Linked DNA regions of Homo sapiens: all the other regions are reported to be linked to region 1. The links are microRNA targets in miRTarBase. Many come from high-throughput screens and were not tested one by one. Region 1 holds a microRNA gene; each other region holds the end of a gene's coding sequence.
The links. The annotated mature microRNA hsa-miR-3662 reads GAAAAUGAUGAGUAGUGACUGAUG and lies in region 1 at 2,210-2,233, shown strand. An mRNA with a match to its seed (bases 2 to 7 or 8) in the 3' UTR can be bound and repressed. Matches are read on the target gene's strand: a 7mer-m8 pairs with bases 2 to 8, a 7mer-A1 pairs with bases 2 to 7 and ends in A, and an 8mer does both.

Region 2: miRTarBase lists OTUD4 as a target of hsa-miR-3662. Seed matches in the 3' UTR shown: 7mer-A1 at 1,895-1,901, 7mer-A1 at 1,559-1,565, 8mer at 1,174-1,181, 7mer-m8 at 835-841 and 7mer-m8 at 556-562.
Region 3: miRTarBase lists HNRNPDL as a target of hsa-miR-3662. Seed matches in the 3' UTR shown: 7mer-A1 at 1,975-1,981 and 7mer-m8 at 642-648.
Region 4: the mRNA of RNF111 is a reported target of hsa-miR-3662. Seed matches in the 3' UTR shown: 8mer at 1,170-1,177.
Region 5: the mRNA of ARHGAP15 is a reported target of hsa-miR-3662. Seed matches in the 3' UTR shown: 7mer-m8 at 3,794-3,800.
Region 6: miRTarBase lists SRARP as a target of hsa-miR-3662. Seed matches in the 3' UTR shown: 7mer-A1 at 2,708-2,714.
Region 7: the mRNA of RNF44 is a reported target of hsa-miR-3662. Seed matches in the 3' UTR shown: 7mer-A1 at 3,270-3,276 and 7mer-m8 at 3,285-3,291.

The regions. Positions count from the first base shown.
Region 1 is chr6:134,977,072-134,981,587 of GRCh38, reverse strand. It overlaps MIR3662 (microRNA 3662), which reads left to right and starts at 2,156; the gene lies at 2,156-2,250. HBS1L (HBS1 like translational GTPase) reads left to right here. Exons shown (of 18, transcript NM_006620.4): 14 at 2,320-2,410; 15 at 2,801-2,909.
Region 2 is chr4:145,133,823-145,138,338 of GRCh38, forward strand. OTUD4 (OTU deubiquitinase 4) reads right to left here. Exons shown (of 21, transcript NM_001366057.1): 21 at 1-4,516. The coding sequence ends at 3,608. Among named protein-coding and RNA genes, the nearest start is that of ABCE1, 38 kb to the left of the region's middle.
Region 3 is chr4:82,422,701-82,426,700 of GRCh38, forward strand. HNRNPDL (heterogeneous nuclear ribonucleoprotein D like) reads right to left here. Exons shown (of 8, transcript NM_031372.4): 6 at 3,763-3,933; 7 at 3,337-3,429; 8 at 1-2,183. The coding sequence ends at 3,359. Among named protein-coding and RNA genes, the nearest start is that of HNRNPDL, 5.8 kb to the right of the region's middle.
Region 4 is chr15:59,093,954-59,098,469 of GRCh38, forward strand. RNF111 (ring finger protein 111) reads left to right here. Exons shown (of 14, transcript NM_017610.8): 14 at 830-3,466. The coding sequence ends at 947. Among named protein-coding and RNA genes, the nearest start is that of CCNB2, 8.9 kb to the right of the region's middle.
Region 5 is chr2:143,767,567-143,772,082 of GRCh38, reverse strand. It overlaps ARHGAP15 (Rho GTPase activating protein 15), which reads right to left. Exons shown (of 14, transcript NM_018460.4): 14 at 3,731-4,094. The coding sequence ends at 3,911. The region is part of intron 2 of ARHGAP15-AS1 (ARHGAP15 antisense RNA 1); the gene reads left to right. Among named protein-coding and RNA genes, the nearest start is that of ARHGAP15-AS1, 6.3 kb to the left of the region's middle.
Region 6 is chr1:16,006,087-16,010,567 of GRCh38, reverse strand. It overlaps SRARP (steroid receptor associated and regulated protein), which reads right to left. Exons shown (of 2, transcript NM_178840.4): 2 at 1,761-4,481. The coding sequence ends at 4,222. Among named protein-coding and RNA genes, the nearest start is that of SRARP, 4.1 kb to the right of the region's middle.
Region 7 is chr5:176,525,793-176,530,295 of GRCh38, reverse strand. RNF44 (ring finger protein 44) reads left to right here. Exons shown (of 11, transcript NM_014901.5): 7 at 90-214; 8 at 478-565; 9 at 652-773; 10 at 909-1,008; 11 at 1,206-3,584. The coding sequence ends at 1,268. Among named protein-coding and RNA genes, the nearest start is that of RNF44, 9.4 kb to the left of the region's middle.

The sequences.
Region 1 (4,516 bases):
ATTTATAGTTTATATCTAGAGTTGTACCTGACTAGTTTATCAATTTGAATGTATATTTTTCTTGAATTCATATGCTCTCTTTAAAAGAAGATTTCTTGAAAAGTTTAAGAAATTAATATCTATTGAAGTTACATGGTTTAACCTATATTTAAAGATGAATAAGGGAATGAAAATCAGTTATTTCCATTTGACCTTTTTATTTGTGCCCACTAGAGATCATGAAATTTCAGTTTTGATAAAAAGTAATATGCACTTTAAAAATAGTGTCATTTTCTATAGATCTGTTCATTGTGTGCAAGTACAGGTCTCTGCTTTTGTTTTTTAAAGTGACAAGAGCTATAATACTTTTGAAACACGATTTTTTTGGTATGTTAATGATCTTTTTTGAGAACAAGAATTTTTTTATGATTAAGAGCCATAAATTAAAACCATGATCCTAAAGTTATCACAGACCTTGAGGTTGGCTCCCTTGTAACCTCTAAAATCCTTAGTCATCTCTGAAAGTCTCACATTCTTTACCCTCCTCTTCTCTGTACTTTCCACACAGAGAAACTCTAAAGTATTATCTTTTATCAGTGTAAGTCTTATCAGAAGCCCCAGGGAAGAACCACCCTACTTCTTGAGAGCCAGTCTTTTAACTCAACAGAGAGGTTCTCCTTCCTCCATTCTAACCTTACTGCTTTTGCTTGGTTTACTTGATTCTTGAAAGCACTGTTCTGTCTAAACATTTTTAGGTACTACTGTGGCTCTTTAACCAGTACTGTCCCAAAAGAAAGACTTGACTGAATCTACTACCAACAAATAGAAATTCTAAATTACTTTTTTTTTTTTACTTTATTAACATATCAAGCTCATAGAGTATTAAAAAAGAGCCTCTTTTTGTAATGTTTGTCCAATGAGAAAAGTTTTTTGATAAATGTCATATGTGGAACAGTGTAACATGATTGAGGGGAAGAAGAACCAGAGAATATAATTACCTTTGGAAAATTTTATACTGTTAATTGAACTTGTAGTATAAAACATCTACAAATGTTTAAGCCAAAGTCAATCTCTATTGTGTGTAAATACCTAGCTTCTGTTTTTAATCCCATATTTCATAGCAAAATTCAGATATGTTCATTCTAAATTTACATTTTAAAATTAAATCTAGTAAGTTGATATTTAACAAACATTCCTTAATACGATAATTGCTAACATGTTTGGGAGGAAGAATCTCTGATACCTGAAGAAAGTTATGCCTTCTTTTCTCAGATTAATGCAGATGTGCACATACATGATATTTTGCATGAAACTCTAGATTGTCTCAGAGCTCTTAAAGTTAAATCCTTGAGCTCCCTAAAAGTCAGAAACTCTCCCTGCTGCATAGAAAATGAGTATTTTCAGAAAGATATGGGTGGATTATAATTTACTAAGAACATGTCAATGTGTCAATCAAGAACTATCCACAGTGGTTGGCCTACACATTCTCTTTGTCAAAAGGCCTACATTTCTATGGAAAGGAACTTAATCCATAAATGTATTCCATAAAATCAGAAAATATGGGATATATTTTAAAAGCCTTTGAGTAAGGTAGCTGAGTATTGCCCTTGGGAACTGCTCTCTCCGACTACCTTCAGGACTATGTCTAGGTAAATAGATGTATATCTCTAGATATATAGCAACACCTAGGATCATTTTAAAATTAAATTTTCTTATCACTATTTCCTTAATATTTTTCTTTTCATATAACTAGTCATTAGTATGCAGATCTCTCTCTGGAAAGAAGTTCTTTTGAGCCAGGAGTAGTTAAGGGGCCTGCTGAGAGGACCGCTTGAAATTCTGACTGAGTGTACATGTCCCATGGGTTACTTGGAAAACAAGGATTATTTGTTTAGGTGGTTGTCTAATTAAAAGCAAAACTCGAGAAGAAAATACTGCTAGACATCTTCTCCAGCCCATCTTTTATGTCATTATGAATAATTTGAACTGTGTTTTATTTTGTCTGTATCCATTAATATGATAGAAATATTTGAATGGGGCCTGTTTAATGAATATACCAATTGTGTCAATTAGTTTAAAAATCTTGATTAAATAAGCAGAAGTCAGCCTTTTATGGGCAAATACAAGTCACTTTATGTTTAGGGTGGTATTCTAGAAGAGTCAGTTCTAGAGGAAGTGTGTTTTCCTCAACGCTCACAGTTACACTTCTTACTCTCAATCCATTCATATTGAAAATGATGAGTAGTGACTGATGAAGCACAAATCAGCCAAACTCTGTTGGTTGTTATGGTTTGATATCGAGGTGTTTCACTGTATGCTTTGGTTCTTACTCATTTCCAGGAATCACTCTGCATGATGAACCTGTCGACTGGGCGGCAGCAGGCGATCATGTTAGTCTTACTTTGGTTGGGATGGATATCATCAAAATCAAGTGAGTGAGAAAATGAGTTTAAGCAACCGTTGTCTTCATATAGGACCTCACCTCTAAACACATATATTTTGCAACCTGCTAGTTCAATTTTGAATTTCATTTGACCAAAAATAGACACCTGTGTAAATGTAAGCAAACTTACTTAAAATTTGAATTAATACATGTCAGCACACATACTTGGCATGTGCTTTGAGTGAAAGCTCTAATGTATAAAAATGACATAAGGTTAATAATGGTTTAAAGTCATGCTTTAGCTCAGAAGAGAATATTTAGAAAAAGTCCCTAATTTACTTAATTGTTTTACTTTCCTTGTAAATGTTTTTGAGGTCTTTCTATTTGATGTAAATTTGTCCCCCAATTACCTTTCCTCTTTTTTTGTTGTTCTTACAGTGTTGGCTGCATATTTTGTGGCCCCAAAGTACCCATTAAAGCTTGCACTCGTTTCAGAGCCCGAATCCTCATCTTTAATATTGAAATTCCTATCACTAAAGGATTTCCTGTAAGTTCCAAAATGTTTTATTATTCCTGTTTTTATAAATTCAAAGTAACTTTATCCTAAAAGTGGTAACTTTCTTTACAAGTGGTGATACTATATTTATTTTGAATTAACATCTTATTACTGTAATCCAGAAAAACTTATAATTAGAAAATCGTTTTTATTTTGTTTTTTATTTTGATCTTTGAGCCTGAGGACTTTTTAAAAGGCATTGAGAAGATATTTAATAATAAATAGGATACAAAGTAATGATAATAAAATTTATCCAGGGAAAAATGATAGACACATTTTCACTGTGTTCTAAAGTTTACTTACTTCTAAGTTTTTCTTAGTTACTTCTAAGTTTTTTAGGTTGAATCATTCTGGGTTTCCATTTTTAATATGTCGATTTGCAGTTTTTCTGATAATAAAAGTTATAGATTGCATAGAAAATTTTGGAAAACTTAAAAATATGGAAAATAAAAATGCCATATACTTGCATAATCCATAGATATATATCTTTACATGTCAGTGTGTTTTTATGTGAGCATATTATCCACCCAGTTGGTATGTATTGGGTGTATTCTGGGGATCCTAGACATACAGTAAATGTCTGGGGATCCTAGACATTCAGTTGTGCTGAAGCAACACATTCAGAACCTGCATGTTGTAAGGTTGGTTTGCCAGCATCATTTGAACATATACATTTTATGGGAAGAGGGAGATTTTATACAATAATGTTACTTATCCTGAAAAGCTGTTACTTGTGAATAGTCTGGATTTTTTGTTTTATGTGTAATTGTTTTGAGATATTTGGGACCGTACTCTTATAGTTTTTGTACTTTGCTTTTGTCACGTGACAGATGACCATTTTTCCCATTAGACTTTTTTTTCTAATTAGCTCATATAGTACAGATTCTGCATGACAATAAATGTTTCTCAGTGATGTTTCTACCATTTGATGCATCTTTGAAATAAAAGTAAGAGTTTTTAAAGTTAGTGATAGTGGTTTAGAGGTTGGCAATACATTTATTTGGGTCATTTATACTGATACACCTATATTTGAGATAACCTTGTACTTTATAATTCTTTGTAATTATTTCTATATTAATTTGATCATGTAAAATTATATTTTAAGGTACTATTTAGGTACTTTACTTACATAATTATATTCCATTTCTTCCATACACTAGAAAAGAAAAGCTTCTTTTAAAAAAATTGCTATAGTTGAAGATACTTAAATATTCAGAATTCATGTATTGATCATCAAGTAACAACAAGTTAATTGTTGTGAGCGAATGGAACTCATTCACAGAAAGCAGTATGTCCTATGAGGCAAAGGAGGGGTTGGTTACTGCATATTTTTACTCATGCAATAATAATATTTGCCAATGGAGAGGTAGAGGGATGAAGAGGTCAGAAGTGACTTTGAATAGTAATACTGTCTCCCTGACTACTGTAGTTTCTTAAAAATAAGCATGAATTGCAAGTTTTTCACTGTTGCTTTAGGAGATTCTGCCAGCATATATTGATTCAGAAATACCAGGATCAAATTTGTTTCAGAAAAATATGGCCATATTTTGTCAGTCTACTCCCTATGGGAGAAAAACTTGAAAAAAAATTTTTTAAGC
Region 2 (4,516 bases), not on the chromosome of region 1:
TATGATAAAGAATATAAAGTACTAGTTTCCTTTTAACACTTCAAAAGATATGTATATATACTTTTTTTTACAAGTAACATCACAAATGATCACATCTTCACATGCTCTTAAAGTATTATTTGTACTCAGTGTAAGGCTATTATCGTTTTTCATACATAAAATTTTCTAGCTCTGTAACACAATGCAATTTTTAATCCATTCAAGTAAGTTCAACCCCAAAGTTGCCGCTTCCCAGCATTAAGACATGCACCCACCCCTCTTCTAAGATTTTCTAAAACTTGTATTTCGGGGAGAAAGACCTCTTTTAAAAAATAATCCCAATTAGTGGGAGAGTAAATGGCTGACATTAGTAGCAAAACCTTAGTTATCTGAAAATAACATATTGGAAATGAGACATTATTAGGATTTTAAACAAACAATAGCATTTAGACATAAAGTAGGAAGCAAAATACAGTAAACAGAAATAGTGTAGCCAAATATGCATTCTCTTCAGCTACACTAGAGTGGACCTTGCTTAGTACCCTTAAGTAAAAGACAAAACATTTACCTCATCTAAAAATGAAGGTAAAACGAAAGAGGCAAAAATAAATATTGCTAGTTTCTAGGATGGCTGAATGTTTTCTAAACCAGAAATGGTTAGAAAGGAACTTTATTGCACCAAGTCAATCATAAGCAAGTTTGCAGTTCACAGGCATTTTAATTCAACCTTGAGTCACAAAGGAAACAACACGCTGCAAGAATACAGTCTGCATTAAATAAGATATATCAGCATTGTGGTCTGGGAAAACCTATGCTTGCCAGGACAAGGCAGGGTCTGAGCTTAGGTCTGCCATGAAAATGAATTTGTGGGTTATCAGTAAACAGTATGAGGACTACACAGATGCCAGCATCCTGCTGCCAAGGAGACATGGGGCAAGAGTTGAAGATTTGAGAGGAAATGAAGAGACATACACAACACCAAAGGGAAAAGGGGGCTGGAATCAAGTTCAGCCAAAGCACCTAACACAAAAAACAGGTGAGCTTTGGTCAGTCTGTTCTTCAAAATATGTATGATCATAATATGGTGAAGTTTCATAATTTCCAACTCAAAAATACAAATGATCCTCAGTTCTATACTTTTGCCTCTATTCTCTTATAAAGAAATATGTCAACATAACAGTATGACATAACAGTTAAAATGAAGGACAAAAGCTTGCTTATCCTTAGTTTGACCTCAGCATAAGGCAAAATCCCCTGGACTAATACATTTAAAAACAAACTTAAAGGAAAAAAAGCGAAACCAACCTTCATGCAAAGATTAATTTTAAAACTATCAAAAGTCAGTTCTTTTATTCCAGAGGTCACTGAGAAAAGTACCATCTGCTAAAATTCTCTTTCAAGCACTTCTTCCATCATATCCTAGAGGTGAGATATGGGAAACAGAAAGCAAATCAGTGTTTCCTTCAGGAGCTATATTCTGTTACTCAATTGAGGTAAGACAAAGTGACAATGAAGATATGAGTAGTATTTCCTTCCAATTTTTAAACATTTTCAGAAGCTGAGATCAAACCCCAGTCAATAAAATGCAGGACACTAGAAGCAACAACTTATTTTGGACTCCTGAGATCAAACACATTGAACTTTCAAATCTGGTGTTTGTATCAAAATGTGATTTTCATTAAAATCAGGTAAGCTAGTCCTACATAAAAAAGCATGAGCTGAAAGTGGAGGACCCTCTATCTTCTCATTCCTTAACTGAGCCACCGATGTTAAGAAAAAAATGGCTTAAGCGGTACCTTCAACAACTATTCTAGTTAAGAAGGTGACAACAAATTCCTTTCAATAGGTTCTCTCAAGAAAAGTTTTCCACACAACCATCCCAGTCTTTACAATTTTTTACCTAGCACCATCATAATAAAATGTTATCTTTCAAAGTGCTCTCTAAAATCCTGTTACATTATCTAAATGCTAATCACTACTCAAATCAGCAGTTACACAGACGTTAGGTAATTAAAACAGCACAGAGGTAAATAACCATTATTACAGTACAGTGGCGATTCACTAGCCCAACTGGCATCCAAACATTCCCATAGGTTATCAGAGAACCCAGAAAACCCATCTGTTTCAGTTTGTCAAATTCAAGTGAATTGTATTTTCTTAAGTAATTTGCTTTACAAAAAAAGAAAGTCACCGCATCTGGTTTTGGCTAGGTATATTACACATGGCATGCAAAGAGAAATTACTACTATGTTATTTGCATAGCACTCAAACTTCCTGATCAGAAGATAATCTCAACATAATAAAAGAGTGGATTTTCACATTGGTATGCACAAATAAAGAATATAAGCTACAGTTATTTTTACAAAATAACACAGATGAATGAATACTGTGTTAATTCAGAGTTCAATCTCCAAATGAGAACAGAGTGCAACATGCAAAGGGAACCTCTAGTGAATACTGCAAAGACTGGAAGAAAACAGAATGTAAGATGTTACCTACCTAAGGGTAACAAGCTATAAAATACAAAGCAAAACCATTTTCTAGCAGCATCCTCTAGAAAAGAACTAGAAGTCACAATCATATTATCTTCTATACAATAGTTCCAGCCCTGACAAGTAGAACATGCAAGTGTAAAGTGAAAGTGATACACAACCAATGGTGCGGGGGGGGGGGGGAGGAAGAAAACAACTCTAGAAACCTGTCAAGCTAAAAATTTTTAACATTTCTTCTCACAAAATATTTAGAATCTGTCAGTGCATTAGTGTTAAAGTGGCATTAAAAAAACTTCTGCAGTTCTAACTGATGCAGATTATTTTCAAAATGCATAGCATCTACATTTCTTTCGAGTAGGCACCATGATATTTACACCAGTGCTAAGAATTCTTGGTGGAAACAGCCATTTCATTGGATTTCCTACTATTCTTCTATGCAATCTCAACAAATACCAAAATTCAAAAATATACCTTATGAATATTAAAAGAACTATATACAACATTGCTAAGACACAGTTAATAGGCTGCCTTATGTGAATATTAAAGAGAAGACATTATTCAAGTTTGACAGATATTGAGATGAAAGGCCTTTGGGTTGGAAGCATTTTAAAAGACAACAGTGTTTTAGGCTGAGAATTGTTTGAGCCCAGTTTATGACTAAGGCATTGCATAATAAAATATACATTTCTATTTGGTGCAACGTTATGTTTGGAATCTATAGTGTGTCAAATGGTATATTTTCTTGTCACTTTAGTAAACACTATAAAGCACACATTTCCAACATCTGAAATCAAACTTATAAACTTATAAGGAAAAAAGCCAAACACTAAATCTATAATGTTTTATATTAAGCTGTTTATAAAAAATACTTTAACAAACTTATCTTCTACTTTTTACGGGGACAGTCACTTGATCAACAAACAGATTCTGAATGAAGAAAACTGGCAATGCCAGGAATTAACCTGCCCCCTTGAACTCATGTCCAAAATGTCTTGTCCAGTATGGGAGTGAAGGTAAGGGGGGCTGGGGAGAGGAAAGAGTTCCAACTGCGGTTTTTACTTTATTGTATTTTTTTTAAAGCCTTCAGAAACATTCCACCTAAGAGTTTCTGTTAGAAAATACTTCGGCAACAACCATCAAGTGTGCTGTCCCCTATGGCCATCTCCCATCCCTGATCTCCTCCTATCTCCCCTAAATGGTCGCCCTCTGACATTTCGATGGTACTGATAACCTTCATCCCGACTTCTGCTTGGCTGTCCTTTCCAGGACTCCTCACTTCTCACATGTTGATATCCACCCCTACCAGAATAGCCCCAATCACTTTTGTACTTCCTGCTTCCATAAGTTTGATTATAGAACTGCTTGGATCTACCACTTCTCAAAATATTAGACACTTCATTTTCATCTTCTGAACTCTCTTCTTTTGGTCTTTGCACTCTGCTATCAACAGAGTTGGCCCCAGGGCTGACCACATCAGCAGCAGTCTTAGGATCTTTTACTTTTTCTGTTTTTTCTTTCAGGCTTTGAATGGTCCTTTTAGGTTCAAGTTCAACAGGCACAGTTTCTCTCTCTCTGTTTAGAATCTGAGTGGGAGGATGAGCCTTTCCCTCTGCTACAGGAGGGATGGAAGCCAATGCCGTATCTGCCTTTCGTGTCTGGGAAGATTGCTCTGTCCGGCCTTCGTCCGGCTTACTGCTCACACTTGCTTCAGGGAGAGAATGTACATGTTCACCCCTGGCTTCTGGAAACTCATCTACTGTTGAAACTGAACCACAATCTTTAGACAGATCCAGATTTTCCAGAGACAGATCCAATTCTCCTTTTTCATCAGAGGGCAGGACAATATTCTGCCTCATTACTGGATTTTCTATGAATCCCTGAAAAGGGTACCCATACCAAACATGAGGAAAGAAAGGAGGTGCAATAGGAACTGGGCCTAAGAATGGATTGGGTCCAAAAGATGGCTGGGGGAACATATTCTTGCCACTTAGTGACTCTTCATAATCAGCATGCAGAAGCTGCCCAGGGGTCTCAGATTCAAGATC
Region 3 (4,000 bases), not on the chromosome of region 1:
AAGGCAAATACGATGTATAAAAACATATACAAACCGAGCATTTGTTATAGGTACTTTAGAATTAATTTCTATCCTCTTCCCGAGGATAACATCACACAGAATTTGGTCTAAACAATGTAAAAGGCAAATACGATGTAAAAAACATACACAGAGTATTTGTTATAGGTACTTTAGAATTCATTTCTATCCCCTCCCCAATAAACTTGTCCAATTACTTTGTTCTAAATTAATCCTTGGGAACGAGATCTTGATAGTAGCTTCAGTTCATCCAACCTAGGACACTTAGCCTTAGAGTATCTGTTCAAATTTGCATCAGTTGGTGAACTGATAGACCCTGAAATCTGAATTAAATCTAGAGTTCAAAGCCCAAATCTAGAGTTCAAAGCCCCTGCAAGAAAAACCAATTCTCACTCCCCCTTCAATTCTTTGCAAAACATCTCAATCATCTCTAGATGTAGTGTATTTTTTCTCAGTCATACATATCAAGACTTGATTAAAAGTTTGGATTTTGTTTAAAAAGGCTTTATTCATTTTTTGATCAGGGAAAAGGACAATCTCAATGTCAACTCGTCACCTAATCATAAATTTGAACTTACAGGATTCACTACCCTAGACACCGCACCTACTGACAACACAACTTAAAAATGAACTTACTTCCATTCCCTAAAGTTGCATGTTGAATGAACAGAATCCCTTCTAACAGCCAACATTGGTACTTGGCCTAAGTTTAAGAATAGCAAAACAGCAGCAAAAAAGAGGCCAAGAGCATTATAATGTGATAGCCCAGGAAGTAGAATCATTGTTAAGAAAGTTGCAGGCACCAAATTAAAAAAAAAAAGGGAGGGCTCATGAGCATAAGAAACTTACCAGTTTTGTGAGATCACCCGTTGTGTGAGATCAACTACTCTGCCTGTGAACACGTATGCCAATCCCAGTAAATAACACTGAGGCCAAGGTCCCAAAATCCAACTACACTGAATGCAAAATCCAAAGCTTTTTATTATTCCAGGTCCTCTGAAACCTGGATATAAAACGGATTCTTTTCAATGCACCCAGAGGGTCCACTGTAATGACTCAGTCACATTTGTAATGACTTAGTCACATTTGTAATGACTTTGTCATAACCAAGATACCTTTTCCACTATTCCTTTCTGAATATGTAAATATTTAACTACTTAGTTCATGCACTGTGTCAAAAACTAGATTTACTATCAAGACTTTTTCTAAACTCACAGAGCATTAACAGCTAATACAACTTCCTCAGGATGCCCAAACAGAAAACATTTTGTTCAATCTTGTGGCGGCTCTGAGAAAACACAACTAAATCTTATTTTGCCACTATTTTAATTTTTCGACCAAACTCATACCTTTCTACCAAAATCCTTGAGTTGTAACTACTTCCAATGCTCTTAAACCATAGCTCCTACCAGTTTTACAGTGCTCCTTTTGTATCTGAACTTTTATCAAGAATTACTCATTGTGTTATGATTACAAAGCTTTTTCTAGGTGACCACTGATTAAAGCCAAAGTAATCAGCAATTCAAAAATGGCTTTCCAGAGACAGGAACAAAGTAAAAGGAGCTACTAACAATTTTATTACAATCCAGAAGAAATATGGTCTACTAGAAAGCTTCTACTAATCACAACACTTATGTCTTCCTTTCAGGACAGTCTTCAGATAACCAGAAGGGAAAGAACATTGTTCAAAGGTGTGGTAGAAATCTCAGTTACAGGGAGAAGATGAAGCCTTAAGAGCATAAAATACACCTACAAATTGGAGAAGAGGGTGACGCTGGCTGGCTATTTATAAAGGACCACAGTTTCTCTGTATGGACCAATACTCTACAAAATCAACTGTGCCTTAATTATTGCTTATTTTAAATTACATTTTTTACAGAGCTATGTAGTACCTGACGCAGAAAAGCAATCACATAAGGAAGCATTTATTTGAGGTTTAACATGAAATGATACAAATAAAATGTGTATAAACAAATCCACATTGAGTCATAACACAGATAGCAAAGGACAAAGTAAAAACAAAGAAAACTAATTGGCAGCTATATACAGTTGGACACAATGGTGTCTTGTACACTAGAAAGTCTTTTACAAAATAATCATCTTAGATCAACAGAAGACCAATCTTCAATGTCGTCCTGCAAGATGGGTTACTTTAACATCTCCTCCTAAAAACAAAAACAAAATACCAGTTAGATTTGTGCAACTCTGACAAGCTTTTAAAGGTCCACTTTCATGAATTGTTTTAAGTCCTCACTTTATTTTCTTCAATAATTAAAGATCATATGCATATTTATTGGTAAAATACAGTTTGGGTAGTCAATAAACTCACCCTGGAGTTCCCAAATGACATTAAATTCAAATCTATTCAGGAAAGAATCTGGGAATACAACCTTCCCATATTCAGAGGTTCAACTATGCTAGATTAAGGTCTACTAGAAGCATCTCTAGTAACCCAAGTAAAATGCTATCACAAACACCAATTTCTAATAAGTTTATTACAAGAACATAAATTGATCTGTGCATATGATCTTTAATTTATATCCCAGATTTAAAAGTTCTTGTTTTGGTTTGTAGATTTCACTATTAGCTATAAAAAGAAAAAGCAAGCATTAAATCTTAAAAGAATGAACACTTAAAATGAGGCTCCACAATTGAAATACAACACTAAACAGAAGACCAAAATGATTAAGCTGTAAAAAGGCATTTATGTACTTTAACTCCTGTAAAAAACCATTTAAGTTAAGTTTAGACACTTAATCTCCAAAAAGATTAAAAATGAAGCCAAAGTCTGAAGTTTTCCACTTTAATCTTTACGCTGGTACATGAAGTTGGAAGAGACCATACCACAGGACAGCGTTTTCTGGTGTATGCCTTGCGCTCTGCCCGCAACGTGCGACCCCCAGAGATAGACGTGGTCAGGGTGACACACGGCCTGCAATGAAGTTCCCGCTGGCGGGTACAAACAAGGTATAATGTCAGAGTTAGAAGACAACATTCTTGTTTTCCTTAAGTTGTACCCATTTCAGTACTTTACCTGTTAATAGTTCTAAAATGTTTAATTATTCCTCTAGACCACCTGGTACACAAAAGCAAACAGAAAAACTCTTAAGTTTTTCTGCAATACTAAAGAAAGTGAGATAAGACTTTAAAGTTAAAGATCTATAGACACTTTAGGCAAAACAGGCTCATAAAGCAATTAAAAAATCAACAATTTAGTAAAAACAGGCTACATAGTATTTTGTTTTTACGTTTCATTTGTCTATTGATCTTTAAATTAAATTAGACATTTCTACTGTTTTCCTGTACTCTTATACACACCTGTTTTCTCCAATGTTCTCCTTTAGTATGGCTGGTAATTGTTTTGGTGATTGCCACCCCCTCGAGATGCCTTGCCATAAGTGCTCTGTTGGCCTATTTTGAAAACACAGAATTCTCATTAAGATAGTTTTCTACAAAACTTTCTTTACAAACACAAACTATTAAATCTACAAATCTTTGCATGCTAAATAAAAAGTATTAAGATATTTTAGCACCCATTAGATGCTACTCATAAATCATACATCCTAGTTCATTTATAACCACCAGTCTATGTTAGTATAATCATCCTATGATTGTAACATGCCTCAAACACTTAACTCCGAACACTTTAATGGAAAGCCCATACACACAATTTCAGAACAGGATTGTATGTTAACAATGAATTTTAATACCACTGCTTTATAAAATTAAGTTAAATATTCTTACCACTGTAGTCTGCATATCCCTGTCCATATCCATAGTTCCCATAGTTATACCCAGTATAATCATATCCGCCATAGCCACTATAGTTTTGATCACCACCATAGGCACTATTGTAATTTCCATATCCTTGATCATAATAGTTATTAAATCCTTGGTTCCAGTTTTGGCCCTGACCTGAAACAATGCACAATGATTGTTAGGAAACAACTTCTGACCCCCAATTCTAACATAAAATGATGCG
Region 4 (4,516 bases), not on the chromosome of region 1:
TATTAGGAAGTCTGAAAAGTGTATAAAAACTCTTAACAGTTGCTAGAAGTAGAAATGGACACGAGTCAGTAACTTTTATTCCACTGTTAACACTCAGATTTAATGTTACCCTATCTTGCTTGGGGGCTTTATTTCTCAATTTCTAATTGGTAATTTGGCATGATGTAAACAAACAAATCATTACATCTCCTTTTAACTTACCTGTTAAACAGTAGCACAATATTAAGTGTATATAACAATTATTCCGTGAAAAAAGTATTACTCACCTTTAATCAGTTATGTACTTAAGTTTAATGTGTAAAGATATTCTTGATAGAAAATAACATTGCACAATAAGACATTTTTTAGTGAGGAAAGTGTAGTTACTATATATTTGCCACATGAATTGTAATGTTTTTGAGAGAGAATTAAATGATGTAATAAATATATATTTGAGATAATATGTATTTTTAAAGGGCATTACAAATACAGTGATGATTTGATTTTTAAAAATATATTTGCAATATTATGTGACAGGTAACATACTGCTAACTCCAGGGCATTGGCAGCTCCTGTACCAAAACAAAACTGGAATAATTGGCAGTGTAATTTGTGTTCTTACAGTTTTTAAGATTTTATATAATTTGGTCCTGTAGCTTTGAAAGTTAATTATCTTGATCATTTATATATTATATTGCCCAGAGTGCTAATTTAATCGATGTGTTTTTTATAGAAGAGGAAGATGCTTAGTACCTTCAAAACATTATTGAATTATTACATATATAATTTGTTAACTACGTACAATTATCATAAAATTAATTTTTGCTTTTTGTTTTCTTGCCAATAATAGACGTCTTCCATGTATGCACCTTTTCCACCAAGTGTGTGTTGACCAATGGTTGATTACCAATAAGAAGTGCCCCATATGCAGAGTGGACATTGAGGCCCAGCTGCCAAGTGAAAGTTGACACCATGTTTCAGAACTCTTGCCCTCCCTCTCATTCCCATCCTTCCTGGTACTGCAGTCAACCAAAGATGGCATGACTTACCTGCGCAGATTTGGAAGCATTGAACTTAGAGTGCTGGCTCTGCTATATGGTACAACTAATGCTAGACCTACAGTTTATGTATACAGTTGATTTTGATGTATTTATAAAAGCTTTTTTTTCTAGATTTGACATTTTTCTGTATCATTTTACTGTATTTTTGCATGGTTCCTTGTATTGCATTTCTTTGCACATATTATGGGCTTGTGACCCTAAACTTGCAGGCAAGGTTAGCTGCTTTAGTAAGTAGAATTTTGTGGTCTTTTTGTTTTTTACATAGTACCAAGCCTTGATAATTATGAATTTTTTATCCATTACTAACCTTTAATTTAATCAATCATGTACTTTAGTTTAATGTATAAAGATCCTCTAGAAAATGATAATATTGTGTATTAAGACATTCCTTAATTAGGACAAAATGGCTGCTGTATATTTACTATATGGAGTTCTGAGTTAAATACCATCCTTAATACTGGGAACAGAATACAACCCATATAAATCAGATGCAGGTGGTAGTCACATCACCAGAGTGATCAGTATAAATTTTCTTGGTGTATCCTTTTCCTTTCAACACAGTGCAGATAAGAGTTGAATATTGATATCATACATTTAGACTGCTGTTCTGATTGCATTTATCTTTTTCCTACATCATTTAGAATTTTATTTCCCTGATTCAGTTTTTGCTGCTGTGAAACAGCTCTGATGAACACTAAATATTAATTTCAATTAGCTAGATTGTACATACTTGCAGATTTAACAAAATTTTAGGGAAATTGAAAAAGACATGTAGAATTTGTTGTCTTCTGCTAAGCACGAAAAGTTAAGATATCTGCTTACATTGATTTTGTAGACACATTAAGTCAAGATTTGGAATTTAAGTCACTGGCAGGTATCTGTGCATTCATAGAACTTATAAAGGTCCCAGGATCACTTTTAAGGGATTTTTATTAGTTTAAAGGTAAATAAAGTCAGCTGAATCTACATGTCTCTTGTTTTATTTCTCTCTAAACTTGAAAACAGTAAATCTGCAGATACTGTGAGGCACAAATTATACTGTCAACCTACTGTTGCTATGGTTATATACTCCCACTTCATACATTACCAAGAGTCGATCACTGATTTAAAATTTTTAATTTCTATAGTTAAGATTTACTGCATAATATAGAATATAAAGTTAAGTTAACATACTAACATTTCTCCTTTGGAGGAAGTTTTAATCTACTTCAGGATGCATATTATTATCAAGATACTTTCATATACAGGATAGCCTAATTTTATTTGTTTAAATATGCTTAATATGCCCCAGATTGCAAATGCATCCAGTCAGTAATATCACTGTCTGTATGTGGAGGACATGTTCCCATGGATCATATGTGAAGATGTCAATAAGCTTGCATTAAGCCACCTGCTTTGTAAGTGGATTGATTAATAAATAACTTATATTTCTATTGTCTTTGTGTTTCATAATTAGTTTTTATAAAAACAGTTTACATTAAACATCTTGGAATTCAACAATAGTGATCTCACTCAAATTGACATTTGCATAATTTGACATTTATATTCATTCAGTTATGACTACTTGCCCTTTTCTTCATATTAGTAAATGTTACACTGTAGTAGTTGTCAATGTTAACAGGCTTCAACATAGTATGTGTGCAGATGGACGATGGATTTAAAGAGCATACCTTATGATTAAACCGAGGTTATAGAAGGTCAGGGGAGAGTGAAGGAGTCAGTGACCTATGTCTGCCATCTTACTGGGGAAAAGAGCAAGTAGCCTGTCTTCCTTTAAGTAAGTAGCCTGTAATGGATGTACTACTTTGCCACTGGAATACCCCGGGTCTGTGCCAAGGGACTGAAGAAGTGTAAGATGGGGAGAACTGTATGTCATGGAGTCCTCTTGACGTTCCCCCAGATACAAGTAAAGCACAGGTGGATTTCTCTATTTTTGAATACTACATCAGATTTAGATGCACGACTACCTGTTGACTTGTTTTATAATTGCTACTGATTTTTTTAATGTAGGCAAAGCTTTGTTACTTTGAAATTTATTTAATAAAAGTATTTGTGACATAAACCTGAATTGTTAATATAGGAGCTTATTAAGCTACTGCCATTAGTTATCGAAAAATGTGATAAGTAATGAAGAAAGTAAGGAAGAAAATGACTTTGAACATTTTGACTTTTTGTGCTTTGTTTTGGTGTCTTCCATATCCTGCTGCATCTTATATGTCAAAATGAACATTTCAGTGGTAGCTGTCCAAATACATAAAAACTAAAATTCTTTTGTTAGCAAGTCCTTATTTTTATTGTTGTTAACATGCAAGTGATAAACTGATAATTTGAAACATTTTTCTTACTCTGGTGACTTTCTTTTAGCTGCTAGCACACTTCAGCATTTGAACCATAACAGTTGTGATAAACTGATCGTTTGAAACGTTTTTCTTACTCTGGTGACTTTCTTTTAGCTGCTAGCACACTTCAGCATTTGAACCATAACAGTTGTGATAAACTGATCATTTGAAACGTTTTTCTTACTCTGGTGACTTTATTTTAGCTGCTAGCACACTTCAGCATTTGAACCATAACAGTTGACTTAGAGAAAACTACTTTTGTTTTAAAAACTGTTACTTGTTCACGCCTGTAATCCCAGCACTTTGGGAGGCTGAGGTGGGCAGATCATGAGGTCAGGAGATCGAGACCATCCTCGTTAACATGGTGAAACCCCATCTCTACTAAAAATACAAAAAATTAGCTGGTCATGGGTAGCGGGTGCCTGTAGTCCCAGCTACTCAGGAGGCTGATGCAGGAGAATGGCGTGAACCTGGGAGGCGGAGCTTTCAGTGAGCTGAGATAGCGCCACTGCACTCCAGCCTGGGTGACAGAGCCAGACTCCCTCTCAAAAAAAAACCACAACTGTTATTTGTAACTAGATGAAACACTAAAATATAAGCTCTTGAGGATATTTTGTTATTAGTGTTTCATAAATGGGAATAGTTTAAATCTGTAGAAAATACATCCTAGTTTCTAACTTCCAAAACCTCTGGGAACACAGTATATGTGTGTCAGACACACACACACACACATACTGTGTTGTTGTTATATATATATGTATATTTGTTGTTGTTGTTGTTGTTTTTGAGACAAAGTCTCCATCTTTTGCCTAGGCTGGAGTGCAGTGGTACGATCTCAGGTCACTGAAACCTCTACATCCTGAGTTCAAGTGATTCTCGTGCCTCAGCCTCCAGAGTAGTTGGGATCACAGGCGCGTGCCACCACATCACTGTGGCCGGCCAGTATATATATGTATATTTTTTGAAAACTTCACATGTCACAATATTTAATATGTCATTTTTTCTCAGTCATAGATATTTTCTTAAGAAGTATATACAATGTTGGGCGTGGTGGCTCACACCTGTAATCGCAGCACTTTGGGAGGCTGAGGCAGGTGGATCACCTGAGGTCAGGAGTTTGAGCCCAGCCTGTCCAAA
Region 5 (4,516 bases), not on the chromosome of region 1:
TCTTGACTCGTTTCTATCACTGCCCGGCCCCACTAGGCATCTGAATTTGCAACCCTTGTTTTAAAGAAAGAGAAAAAAGGAGACATCTGTGTTCTAAAGATAAGATCAAACAGGGTTGAAAATATAAAATGTGATTATTATATTTCCAGAAAGTCCTCATTTTTTGGTATTAAGATGTAAGTTTCCTGGGAGAGAGTTGATGTTGTTTTGGTTTTATTCCTCATTTTTGACAACAGAGCAATTTGACCCAGAACCCTTAGCAACAGTCCTTTTTGGATGAAAATCTTTGCAGGGCCTTTTAATTAGGAATTGACAGGGTGATTAACTTATAATTCACAAAAATAAATGTGGAAAAGAGAAGTACAGGTCAATTTCTAGCTGTGTTAAACTGTAAGGACAGCACTATTGGCAAGTGATTGCTTCCTTTTAACAGCTTTTAAAATTTTTCTTAATTGGATCGTTTGTTTTCTAATTGGATAGGGAGAACCATCATATGGCTTTCAATTACTAGTTGTGGCATGGTGATCCTGTCATATGGCACATGCTAAGAAAGTCAGACTGTCAACATATAAGATGAAATATATACCATCTCCAAGCAGCTTTCTGTGTCAATAAGAAAGAGGGGAAACCTCTGATATCCTGGGTAGGTAAAGGCGTGCTGAAATGGGACATAATAACTAGCTTGATTTTCTAGGGACTTGTGTTTCCATTCTACAGACTAAGTTACAATTTCTTAAAATGTTTCATCATCATAACTAGAACTGACCCTAAGAATATAAGATTATAATTTTATTTCACACACAAACACATACATGAGAAAATGCTGGTCTCCTCAAATTAATTTTTTTCCTGCCCATTGGTGAATTTAGAGATTCTCTAAGAAACAAAGTTTCTCTATAGCTTTCTGGCTTTACAGCCTCTATGGGATCCCTTTTGCCTACAGGATAAAATCTGAATATGTTATCATGGCTGATATCTGATCCCAACATCTTTCTCTAGCTTTATATTCCAAAATTGCTAGGCATGCACTTCACCCTTTATTCACTGAACTTCTCACTTTTCTTTGGAGAATGTCAGGTCTTTCATGACTCTGTTCGTGCCATTCCTGTTTCCTGGTGTGTTTTCTGCATTTTTCTTTGGTAAATCTTGTTCATTGGTCAAGATTAGATAGAAAAGGTTACCTTCCCAATGAAGCCACATCTAACTCTGTAACAGAGTCAGAGGACAGTTACTGCCTGTAACTGAGTCTTTTGGTATTTGTCAGCCACTGAGCATTGTTAATATGTCTGGAATAGCTTCTGTTCTGTTTGCCCATTCATTCAACAATACATTTTGAGCATCTTTAAGTATAGGTGCCGAATCCTGGGTCTACACGCTTACCAAGATGGCTAAGGCACCTGATCTTGTATTGAACTGTAATTAATTGTTAGGGATAGTCTCCCTCACTGGGCTGAAACTACAGAGGGTAGAAATATTTGTCTTATTTAATATTTGTGTCACCAGTGCCTAGAATTTTGCCTGGTTCAAACTAGGAGATAAGGAAATGCTCACTGGTGTTTCATGACTTCTTGCTGGAGAATATTGACCAGTTATATGAAATCTAACCTTTTAGTCAACCTAGTATACTTATAATCTCAGCTTCTAAACATGGAAGACTTGATATGGCCGTCATCACTGTATTTGAGATGTTACGGAATCTAATAATAACTTTTTGGTGTAACCCTTTTTATGCCTTTAGTGTGTTAGGTCAGATCCTGTGATGGGCACTTTGGCTCAGCACGTTGGAATGGCCTTTTCCCAGAGAGGAAACACATTCTCTGATTAAATGCCCTTAGCAGGCAGGGACAGGACACAGCTGGGGTTTGAATCAGGCTAAATCCCATCAGATTGGAAATCAAGAAGCTGGTGCTTTTGAAGATTATAAATCTGGAAAGCAACAGAGACAAGGGGCTGTGAGTCCCTGCCCAAAGCAGGTAGTGCCACTTCTCTTTGGCTTTCAGTGCTGGTTCTCTCTGGCTGATGCTTCCAGAATAACTTTAAAGATGGATACGTGTGAAGGGATAAGATTTTAATGCTAGAACCACTAAATCTACTCTCCCCCAACGCTTCAAAAAGGGAAGTAATCAAAGTCTTGGGAAAGACCTAATTGAGAATACGGAATGGCATGGAAATGAGAACGACTTGAAATAGAATGCCAGAAACTCTTGTTTCATGTCTCCATGTTTTTCTGAAAGGCATAATTACAATTTTACTTATAAGAATCACTTAAAGCTAGCAAGTCTGCCAGCCCACTGTTACTGGTGACTTCAGATCATGGAGTTCTGCTTCATGCGACTTTTTTTCAGCTTTTTGTATGTGTATACATCCCACTGGATGAAACTGCACTTCAGCACTTATTGTGGTGGCTTCTCTGTTCTTGGCTACAAGCCCACTTACTGGCGCCATTGCTAAAATGAAGACATTCAAAAGGGACAAGGGAGTCCTCTGCTTCCTCAGGCAGCTCCATGGATGTTGGAGCTGCCTGCACATCTGGCTATCTCTTGAGCAGACTCTCCCCGTCTCCTGAATACCCCATCTAAACAGACAGCCTATGCCGTGGAGCTCATTATTGCCCTAAGTGTTTGCTCTGGATCTGTGCTTCACCCGTTTTATTTACATGTTTTATTTTTCATTTTATGAACAAATCGATAACTATACTTACTCTTTATCACACTGGATTAGTTTTATTTATTCTGTTTGAATTTGATTAAAAAGCTGTCAAACGTAAGTCTACATTTTTATCAGCAGAATACTTTCATAAAACCAGTATGAGATGTGTTCAACTAGAACATACTTTTCAAAATAAAACAATGTTTGATATATTCTAGACAGTTACCCTTTTGTTTATCCATGACAACTGAAACTATCAAATGGATAAAGCAATCTAAGTCTAGTCAAGTAATCCTTAGGGCATATGAAAAAAAAGGCTTTAAAAAAGTTCTTTCTAGATGGATTTAATGTAATTCACCAATAAAGCATCCTCAGAAGTATAATAAAAATTCTACATAAAATGACATAGCCAGGGAAAAGGAAGATATACAGTTTGATGAAGATTCAAAATGGATGTTAGCATTAAAAATGAGCAGTCATGCAATTCCTGTGTAATATAAAGATCAAAATTGCAGGGCACTAATTTTGCTTCTAATTTATAAGATAGTGTGTTTATGGGACTACATTTGTATTTATAAAAAATTCAATGGCAAATGCTTTGAACTGTCATTTTTCTTGAGAAAAATTGCCATTCAACATGTTATATTTATAAATTTCACTGTATAGCATTGAAAATAGCTGGACTATATTTATATATACAAAAATGTTCTGGAAAGATGAAATATATATGTTTTGGTTGTGAACCTGATCTCCTTCGTTCAATTTACAAATTAATAGCTTCTGCCTTCCTACCTCTTTGTGTTCTATCCGTGTCCAAGTAACAGTATGGAGTCATGTTTAAGGCAGCCTGGATCTTGGGAAAGCACATGTGTGCACATGCACCCCTACTCCCAACCACACTCACTCACATCTCCACATACACAACCACACACCCAATTCCCTGGAGCAGCATTAAGGCCATTTTTTGAATATGTGCTAGTCTTTGCATATTATTTAATAGCATGAGGCATGCATGATGTGCTCCTAGAAGTGCTAGAAGGCATAGCACCAAAGGGGTTAATGTAGAACACATAGAGGCAAATATTGTCAATTATTTTATTCAAATGTTTGGAACTTAAACACAAAATCATCATTAAGTTTTCACAAAATGAGGCATCTGTCGCTTGAAAGGCAAAAAATATTTCAGAAATATGTTTACAGAAATGTAAAAATATTAGGCATCAAGACAGATGTGAACGTATTCAGTAGCTTGTCTTGTCTGTCAGTCTTCCTCTGAGCCGAAGATCTTACTGTACTCACTCAGCATGAGCTCAGCTATCTGGTTCTGGTAGACCATGTGGATCGCCATGTTTCCTGTTTCATTTTCAGCTCGCAGAAGGGTAGGTCCAAATACAATCCCCAAGCTTTGCGTGGACATGAGGTTCTTGGAGGCTTTGGCCACTATCCTGTGGAGAGAGAGAAAAAAAAATAATTTCACTGGAGTTTGAAGTGAAGTTATGGCTACTTTGGAGTGATTAAAAAAGGTTTCTCATTCAGGAAAAGTAACTGCATTATAACATTATTTAATCTTCTACCCTACATACTTTACTGTATGGAAGTAGAACCTATGAGTTTTGGGGAAAGGATACATTGCCTTGTCCAACTTTTTACCCCCATAATAGCTGAGCATTGTGGGTACTCAACAAATATTTGTGAAATGAATGAGTATATTAAACAGCAAAAATGACTGTGAAATTAATAAGATTCAGCCTTTAAAATGCTTAGAGACAATTGAGGAAACAGGTGAGAGGCATGCAAAAAAATATATATATAAGAACCCAAATGAAATAACCAGAACAATGTCTGCACAATTAGTAGCCTGAAAAAA
Region 6 (4,481 bases), not on the chromosome of region 1:
GGCGCCTGCTTGTCGGGGCCCGCTTAGTTGCCCTCACCCAAACCAAAAAAGTTGAGTCTAGAATGAAAGTTCACTAGCCTGCAAAATAGCTCGCTTTGTCTATTCTTATCAGCTTGCCTGACTACCTAGGTCATAAGTCAGATACTTAAGAAAACCCTAAGCTGGCTATGATTGCAATGTATTGTGGGCTGCAACAAAATGCAACAAGAAAATCCTAAAGAAAACACCTAAAAGCTCCTACCCAACAACCAATAGGCGACATCCAGGAAGATTGTGATCCTACAGTACTCAGCCTATGAGGAACCAGGGGAGGGACCTGCGCACTAGGGGATAAATTGCTTGTTGTAACTGTGCTGGGTGTGCCTGCCCACCAGACACCCGATCTCGTAAGACCATCATTAAAAGTCTCTCTTCCACTGTTCTATGTGCCTCTGAGCCCATTCTTTGGGTTTGGACAGGTAAGTTGGTTTCTCACAGGCCTGATGACCTGGTCTCACACCTCACCTTCCCAGAGCAACTTCATCACCAACCTATATACCAATGCAGCCCCATTGCCAGCCTCAACCTCTGACCAGAGCTCCAATGGGGAATGGGTCACCACCTGCCCACATCCCCTCCGGCATGTCCCACAGTCCCTCACACGACATCCGCCTCCTGAACCTGTCATCTCCCCATGTCCCCACTGGCTACTCCGCCTGTGTGCTCCATCTCAGCGAGGGCCCTACCACCCATTCAGTCTCCGGACACTCCCCACATGCTGCCGGGTGCCAGGCTGGATCATTCTTCACTCACTTATTGAACCGCTGTGACCAGTGTGTTCACAGCACAGTATGGGGCTGCAAGCGCAGTGCGCAGTCACATTGCCTGAGGTTTGGATTTGGGCTCTACCGGTTTCCAGTTAGTGACCTTGGGCAAAGTATTCGACCTTTCTGTGCCTCAGTTTCCTCTGTAAAATGGCAAGAGAAATCATGCCGACCTCACATGACTGGGGTCAGGTGAACTGATGGGGTGTGGGGTGTATATTCAATTGCCCCGTAATGACGACAGCTATAGTAACTGACGACATCAATAGTAATGATGACAGCTCCCTTTACGGAGCAAGTATAAGTGGTATAAGTGCCTGGTTCCTCTGAATCCTCACCAAGACCCCCCAGGGTTCAATTCTGAAATGTCACTTTGCTGGGTGCCTGGCATAAAGTAAACATTCATTATTCTGGATGAAAGGAGTATTGGTTAGAATGAGTCTGGCTTCTGAAAAACAGACCCACTGGTTGGCTGGCCCCAAGGCTTTAGTCCCAGACCCAGCAGGTCCACACCTTCCCTGTCCAGGCCTGGACCCAGTGTCCTCTAGTCTGATGAGAGGGCGACACCTGCTGGTGAAAAGCCGGATGTGCAGCCACAGGTCTCCTTTCTCCTTGAGGGTCTCAAACTCCCTCTGCAGCCTTGTCCTTGGGGCCTTCAGGAGAGTAGAATGGGCATATGTCGACCAGATTGTACTGCGTCCTCCTCTCTAGTCCAAACCATTGCTCTCCTTTCTCAGGATTAAGACTCAGCCTCCGGTGCCTCCTCCCTGCAGTCAGAAGGCCCGGAGGGATCCTTTCCAAAGGTACGTCTGGCCATGACGCTGTCTGCTCACAATTTCCAGTGCTGCCATCTGGGAATAAGATCTAAGATCTAAAGGTCTTGTTGCAGCCTGCCAGGCCTCACCTGATGCAGCTTCTGCCACTTTTCTTTTCTTTTTACTTTTTTGGTTTTTTTTTGAGACAGTCTTGCTCTTGCTCTGTCACCCAGGCCGGAGTGCAGTGGCGAGATCTCGGCTCACTGCAACCTCTGCCTTCTAGGTTCAAGCAATTCTCTCACCTCAGCTTCCCAAGTAGCTGGGATTATAGGTGCCCACCACCACGCCCAGCTAATTTTTATATTTTTAGTAGAGACGGGTTTTCGCCAAGTTGGCCAGGCTGGTCTCGAACTCCTGACCTCAGGTGATCTCCCCCCGCCTCCCCCTCCTTGGCCTCCCAAAGTGCTGGGATTACAGGCATGAGCCACCGCGCCTGGCCTCCTGCCACCTTTCTGATCTGTTTGTTTTGTGTGTGTGCATTGCCTGTCTCCCCCAACTAGAGGATAAACTATTTTGTGGCTGGGCCTCATTGTCTTATTCATTGCTCCATCTCATGGTTTAGCCCAAAGCCTGGCATTCAGTGGATGCCCAATAAATACTTGGTGAATAAATGAATGAATGACAATTACCCTAGCCAGACTGAACGACTGGTCCTTCTGCCCAGAGCACTCCCCACTTGCTCCCCCACCCCACCCTTTTGTATAGCTTAGTCACCGGTCAGATCTCATTTTCGGCATCACTTCCTGCAGGAAGTCCTCCCTGATCTCCTCTCTCTAGAGTGGGCTGGTTGTCCTCCAGCATCATTCTGTGTTGCCCTTACTGTTGCACTTCTCAGAAGCTATGGCAATTGTGTGCTTTCTTTCTGGCCTCCCCCACCTGGCTGTGAGCTCCTTGAGGACAGGGTTACATTTATCCTCTGTGTGTCCCCTCTGCCTAGAAGAGACGCTACCAGGATGAGAGGGTATATACCTTACAGTTACAAGCAAGAATATGGGCACCAGACTTGCCTGAGTTCTAATCTCAATGGTACCAGTCTATGGAACTTTGAGTCCATTCTTCAACCTCTCTGTGCCTCAGCTCTCTAATCTATAAAATGGTCACAAATACAGTGCCCATGTTGTTTCTCTGACACAGAGTAAATGGTCAATTACATGTTAAATGTTAGCAGCTAGTATTTGTAGGAACCTAGTAAAATAGTCATTGAATAAATTAATGACCAGATACGGTGGCTCACACCTATAATCCAAGCACTTAGGGAAGCTGAAGCGGGAGGATAGCTTGAGGCCAGGAGTTCAAGACCAGCCTGGGCAGCACAGTGAGACCTCTTCTCTACTAAAAGAAGTCAAGCTGGGCGTAGTGGTGCACCTATAGTCTCAGCTACTCGGGAGGCTGAGGCAGGAGGATCACTTGAGCCCAGGAGTTTGAGGCTGCAGTGAGCTGTGATTGTTCCACTGCACTCCAGCCTGGGTGATAGAGTGAGACTCTGTCTCTAAAATAAATACAGAAAAACCCAGTGATTTTTATCTGGGAGCTTTGAGACTGACTTCCTTAAATAGGTTGCTTTAGGGTTTCTCACAGTGCTGTGCATGCCTTAGACTCACAGACACCTTCACACCCACACCAGTAACTCCACCTCCTGCTCAGGGAACACGATTGCCCTGAGGGGTGAACCTCCTCCCCCCACCTTTTTTTTTTTTTTTTGCTATCCCTAGAGGGCAGCATGAGCCTGGTATGCAGTAGATGCTCAATAAATAACATGTCTTGTTTTCATTCGTTCAAACATGATACTCTATTTTTGAGTACCTCCCTCCCTTTTGAGAAGCCAGATCCCCTTATTTCCCATCTCAGATCCCCAGGTCCCACCTGGGCTGCCTTATGGGATGGAGTCTCCTGGAGCCAACTTCCCTGAGCCTCCCAGCCCCAACTGGCATGGCCCTCGAGTCTCCCCACGTGGTATCCCCTGCCTTTGCAGTGACCTACACACTCGCCTCTGAGCCAAGATGGCAGCAAGAAACCCGTTGCCCCTCCCCGTCATGCTGGGGCATTCTGACCACTGCTCTGGCCTGCCCTGGGGTAAGATGACAGCAGGTGGCCCTGGGGAGGGTGGATTTTCTCAGGGCTGGCCCCTTCTCATCTTTTAGATCACACTTTGTTGCCTGCGCAGAGAGGCCCTTACCAAGCACTGCATCAGGAAAGGTCTTCACCCCAATCACTCTCCCTCTAGCATCCTGTTTCAGTTCCTGCAGAGCATTCATCGCTGTTCAAAATCATCTTCTTTATTTATTGGGTTACTTTATTTATTCAGGGTGGGTTCCCTCCACCCCAAAAATACCAGCTCCAGGAAAACCATGGTATCTCCCCAGCACTTTGCAGGGCCTGGCATGTGGAAGATGTACCAGTAATATTTGCTGTATGAATGAATGAGTCTCTTCATGTGCAGGTGACTTATCCTGCCTCTGCCACTCGACGGATGTTTCAGATGCCCCTTAGCGGATCTAATGATGTTTCCTTGGCTCAAGCACAAAAGACTCCTGCTTAGCTGGGGAAGCAGGGCCAGGCCCTGGGAATTGCAGCCTCTGGGCATCAGAGCCCGGCCCTTCCAGCTAATCGGCCTGCCCACAGACACAAGAGGAGAGGGCTTTCAGTGAGTCCTTGACTGTTCCCCAAGTTGAAGACCTCACAGGCGCAGCCTTCACGGGTTTCCCCTTAGCCTCGGGAACCTCCTGGGGGCAGAGCGGGCTGACTGGGAAGGAAGCTGAGGCCACAGACCCTCTGCAGAGCGGCAGGGTGGCCCTGGCCTGGGCAAGGCATCCCCCACCCATGGGGGTCACCCGAGTCAGATGGGGCCAGTTTTCCCCACAGA
Region 7 (4,503 bases), not on the chromosome of region 1:
GCAGGCCCACCGGGCTGACTTGCACCTGGGCTCCGGGGCGGCTGGGAGGCAGGCCTGCTGGGCTGACCTGCACCTGGCCCCTCTTGCAGCCATATTCTCACATGATGCCACGGAGACTGAGCACCCAGAGATACCGCCTGCAGCAGCCACTGCCCCCGCCGCCCCCACCCCCACCCCCACCACCCTACTACCCCAGCTTCCTGCCCTACTTCCTGTAAGTATCCGCACATCCGCCCCAGGTCCCTGATGCCCTGTTCTCCTGGAACCTCCAGTGGTTAGACCTAAACACAGCTCCAGGGGCCCCAGGGCCTCTGAAGCCACCTGGCGTTCCCCCCTTAACCTGACAGGCACGCCAGCTGGGCTCCCTTCCCCGCTGCAACGTTCTGGGCTCTGTTTGCAAGGAGGGAGTCAGGAGAGCGGCTCTGTGTGCCCCACTCCTGACCTTGACCCTGGGCCCCCACACTTGTCTCTCTCTAGCTCGATGCTGCCAATGTCACCAACAGCAATGGGGCCCACCATCAGCCTGGACCTGGACGTGGATGATGTGGAGATGGAGAACTATGAGGTCCCATGGAGCCCCATGCTGGGAGGTGGGGTTTGGGAGACCTGCAGCCCTGGGCGCCGCTGACCCCGTCTCCTGCCCGCATGCAGGCCCTCCTGAACCTGGCCGAGCGGCTGGGAGATGCCAAGCCCCGGGGTCTCACCAAAGCAGACATAGAGCAGCTCCCGTCGTACCGCTTTAACCCGGACAGCCATCAGTCGGAGCAGACGCTGTGAGTACCCTGCCCCACCTCCCACCCCTCTGAACACAGCTGGCTGCCGTGGGACGCCCCTCTCAGGGGAGTCACACTCCACTGAGCCTTCCCATGGCCCTCAGCGTGGAGGTGACGCTCCGCGCCCCTCCACAGGTGTGTGGTCTGCTTCAGTGACTTCGAGGCGCGGCAGCTGCTCCGAGTCCTCCCCTGCAACCATGAGTTCCACACCAAGTGTGTTGACAAGTGGTTGAAGGTAACACTGCCCAGGTCTGCTCCTGGGTATTCCTCATGCAGTGACGGGGGGATGGGCTGGCCTGGGCTGTTTCCCTCCTTGTCCTTGTCATCATCTCGGAAGTTCTGGCTCCAGCGGACCAAGTCCCCCCAGGTGGCTGCACAGATGTGGTGGGTTGGGGCTGGTGAGAGCAACGCCTGACGTGCATGTTCCCACAGGCCAACCGGACGTGTCCCATCTGCCGGGCCGACGCCTCCGAGGTGCCCAGGGAGGCTGAGTGAGGCCACGCAGCCGCCTGCCCGGGAGAACCCTGCCTGAAGCTCTGGAAACTTGTGGGTGGGGCCCAGGGAGGATGGGGAGGGAGTGGCCCAGGCCTGCCCCTTCGCTCCTGCCTGCATTTCCAGAGCTGGTGCCAGGGTCAGCCCAGCGAGGAGTCCCTGCAATAAGCCCCTGCATTTGCCAAGCTCCAAAGACTCCCTCCCTAGTCTGCCTGCCTGCCCGCCCGCCACGGAGCTGCCTGAGTGTCCCTGATCGGGTCTCCCTCCTGTGCACCCTCAGGTCCCTCCTTTTCCTGCTGGCACTGAGTGCCAGGGGTCCGCTCCCTCAGTGGGGCCGGTGGAGATCCTTGGCCCCAGGATGGGCAGACAGAGCACCATCCTGGGTCAGAAGGTCTCATGCTCTGAAATGGCGTGCCCTCTGCCCAGGTGGCACTGCCAGGTGCGTAGACAGACGGTGTCACGAGCCATTTCCTGAGCCCCAGGGCTGAATCCCCCCTCCTTGACCCCGAACAGTGAACTCAGGCAGCTGGCTCTGTGTTGGCTGCTGTGAGGGCTGAGTCTGGTTCCCTAGGGGACCCTCATCCCAGGAACAACATTCCAGCCCCACCCTCAGGCTGGAGGGCGTCCCAGCCTAATCCCGAGCTGGGGCACACGTATCCTGAGGGGCTTGGGCCATACGGGGAGAGGGAGCCCTGTGTTCCCGGTGGTTGTCCCTCCCAGGGATGCAGCCAGACCCGTGCCCAATCTCCTCTCCCTCTGTTGTTTTGCATGAACGTGAGGAGCAGCAGTTTTTGTTCATTCATTTGGCCCAAAATCACGTGTAGGATTTGGGGATGTGGATATTTAAGACAATTTCTTTTTTCTTTTGGTTTAATAGGGGCGGGTATAGGGACCAACTGGGACCGAGTGCCCAGGGGGCCGAGCACGGTCATGCTGGCCGGCCTGCATGCATGCGTGTGCCGGGCTGGGCTGGGCGGCCGGCGGTCGTGGGGCAGGGTTGGGGGTCTGTGCTCAGCTGATAACTGCCATGCACTGTACTGCACACGTCCCTAGAGCCTACCGGGACCCGACGCTTTTCAGGGCATTTCTCCCTCCAGCCAGGGCCCAACTCCCACCTGCCTGGGCGAATCTCCTCCAAGGAAGTCCCAGGAGGATGGGGACCAGGAAGGCTGTGGACCCCCATCTCCAGGGGGCCTTCCCAGCCTGATCCCTGTCCTCCAAGTTCTGGAGGAGGCCGCTGTAGGGTCTGGCTGAGCTTCCCACCCACTTTCCCTGGTCCCAATCCTTTCTTGTCCTATACCCAGCTGGGGTTGCTGCCCTGAACGAACTGCGTGTGGGGCCGGCACATCCTAGCAGGCAGCCCCTGGCGCCTGCTGCCTCAGGGATGCTCCAACCACCCTCGTTCTCCTCGCAGTGGCCCTGGCTCCCACCTCCCGCCCCAGCCTGCCGTGGGGCCCGTCAGCCTGGTCCCACCCCCATGGAGAACCCAAAGTCTTACTGTATATAACTCCAGGTGACGTTTCTATATTTATAGCAGTGTTGAAAACCCACGTGTTTTACACAGAACCACCCTCTCCAACCCCTCCCTTCCCGACCCCAACAAAACGTTTTCAAACCCCTTACAGTTCCTGGGGCAGGCGGAAACAGGCTCACAGATTGTGTGTCGGCTGCAGCAGTGATTCCAACAAGCAGCTATTGGGGGGGAAACACAGCATTTAAAAAGATCATCATTAAAAAACAAGATTTATACAACAATTACTTAGGATGTTTGTGATCTGCCGACCTTGCTATAGATGCCATGTTACCAATGATTTCCTGTGGTGGGGGCTTGCCATTGTTTACTCTCTTATTTACCAACTTCTGGCCTAGGCATGACAGTGGGCACCTTCCCCCAGCCCTGGCTGGGCCCAGCGCCTGTGTTCTGTGTTAGAAAGGTTTTATATATATATAAAATTACATATATATGTAGAAATATATGTAATTTTGGGGGCCCTGTTCCTTGCACATTTTACAGTTACCTCATTTTTCCCATGTATGTATTTGAGAAAATGCTAATATATAGAGAAAAAAATGGTTCTTAAAGCTTAAATGTGTGGTTTTTTCCATTCCATGGGATTCACATTGGTTTGTAGCATTTAACATAACTAGTATGTTGTATTATATATATGTGTATACTGATTGAAATTTTTAACAGATTTGTACTTTTTTTAAAATGAAAGTTGCTAGTTCTGCTTGACCAAGTAGTGCAATCATTATTTTTTTTAATATTGTTGCTGATTTCAGAGGGATATTCACTAATAAATGTATGATGTATACCAACGACCGCCCACGCTGCCTTTGGCTGCCCGTGTCTTTTTGGTGGGAGGTGGGATGGGGATGAGGCTTAACACCTGTAATCCCAGCACTTTGGGAGGCCGAGGCTGGTGGATCACTTAAGGTGAGGTGTTCGATACCAGCCTGCCCAACATGGTGAAACCCCTTCTCTACTAAAAACACAGAAAAATTAGGCCGGGCGTAGTGGCTCATGCATGTAATCCCAGCCGGTGGCTCATGCCTGTAATCCCAGCACTTTGGGAGGCTGAGGTGGGCGGATCATGAGGTCAGGAGATTGAGACCGTTCTGGCTAACACGGTGAAACCTTGTCTCTACTAAAAATACAAAAAAAAATTAGCCGGGCGTGGTGGCGGGCACCTGTAGTCCCAGCTACTCGGGAGGTTGAGGCAGGAGAATGGCGTGAACCTGGGAGGCGGAGCTTGCAGTGAGCCAAGATCGTGCCGCTGCACTCCAGCCTGGGTGACAGAGCAAGACTCCGTCTAAAAAAAAAAAAATTAGCCAGGTATGGTGGCACAAGCCTGTAGTCCCAGCTACTCGGGAGGCTGAGGTAGGAGAATTGCTTGAATCCAGGAGGTGGAGGTTGCAGTGAGCCAAGATTGCACCACTGCACTCCAGCCTAGGTGACAGCGGACTGTGTCTCAAAAAATAAAAATGAATCTCAAGGTAGGTTCTTCTGTCCTGACTGGATCAGGGGGCTCAGGCCTGTCATGAGGAAATAAGGTCTCCCTCATTTCACAACTTGTTTTGTTTTTCCAATAGGAACAAGTCTCACTATGCTGCCCAGGCTGGTCTCGAACTCTTGGGCTCAAGCAGTCCTCCCACCTTGGCCTCCCAAAGTGCTGGGATTGCAGGTGTGAGCCACCGCGTCCAGCCTGCAACCTTGCTTTTCTCTGCGCGGCAGCGC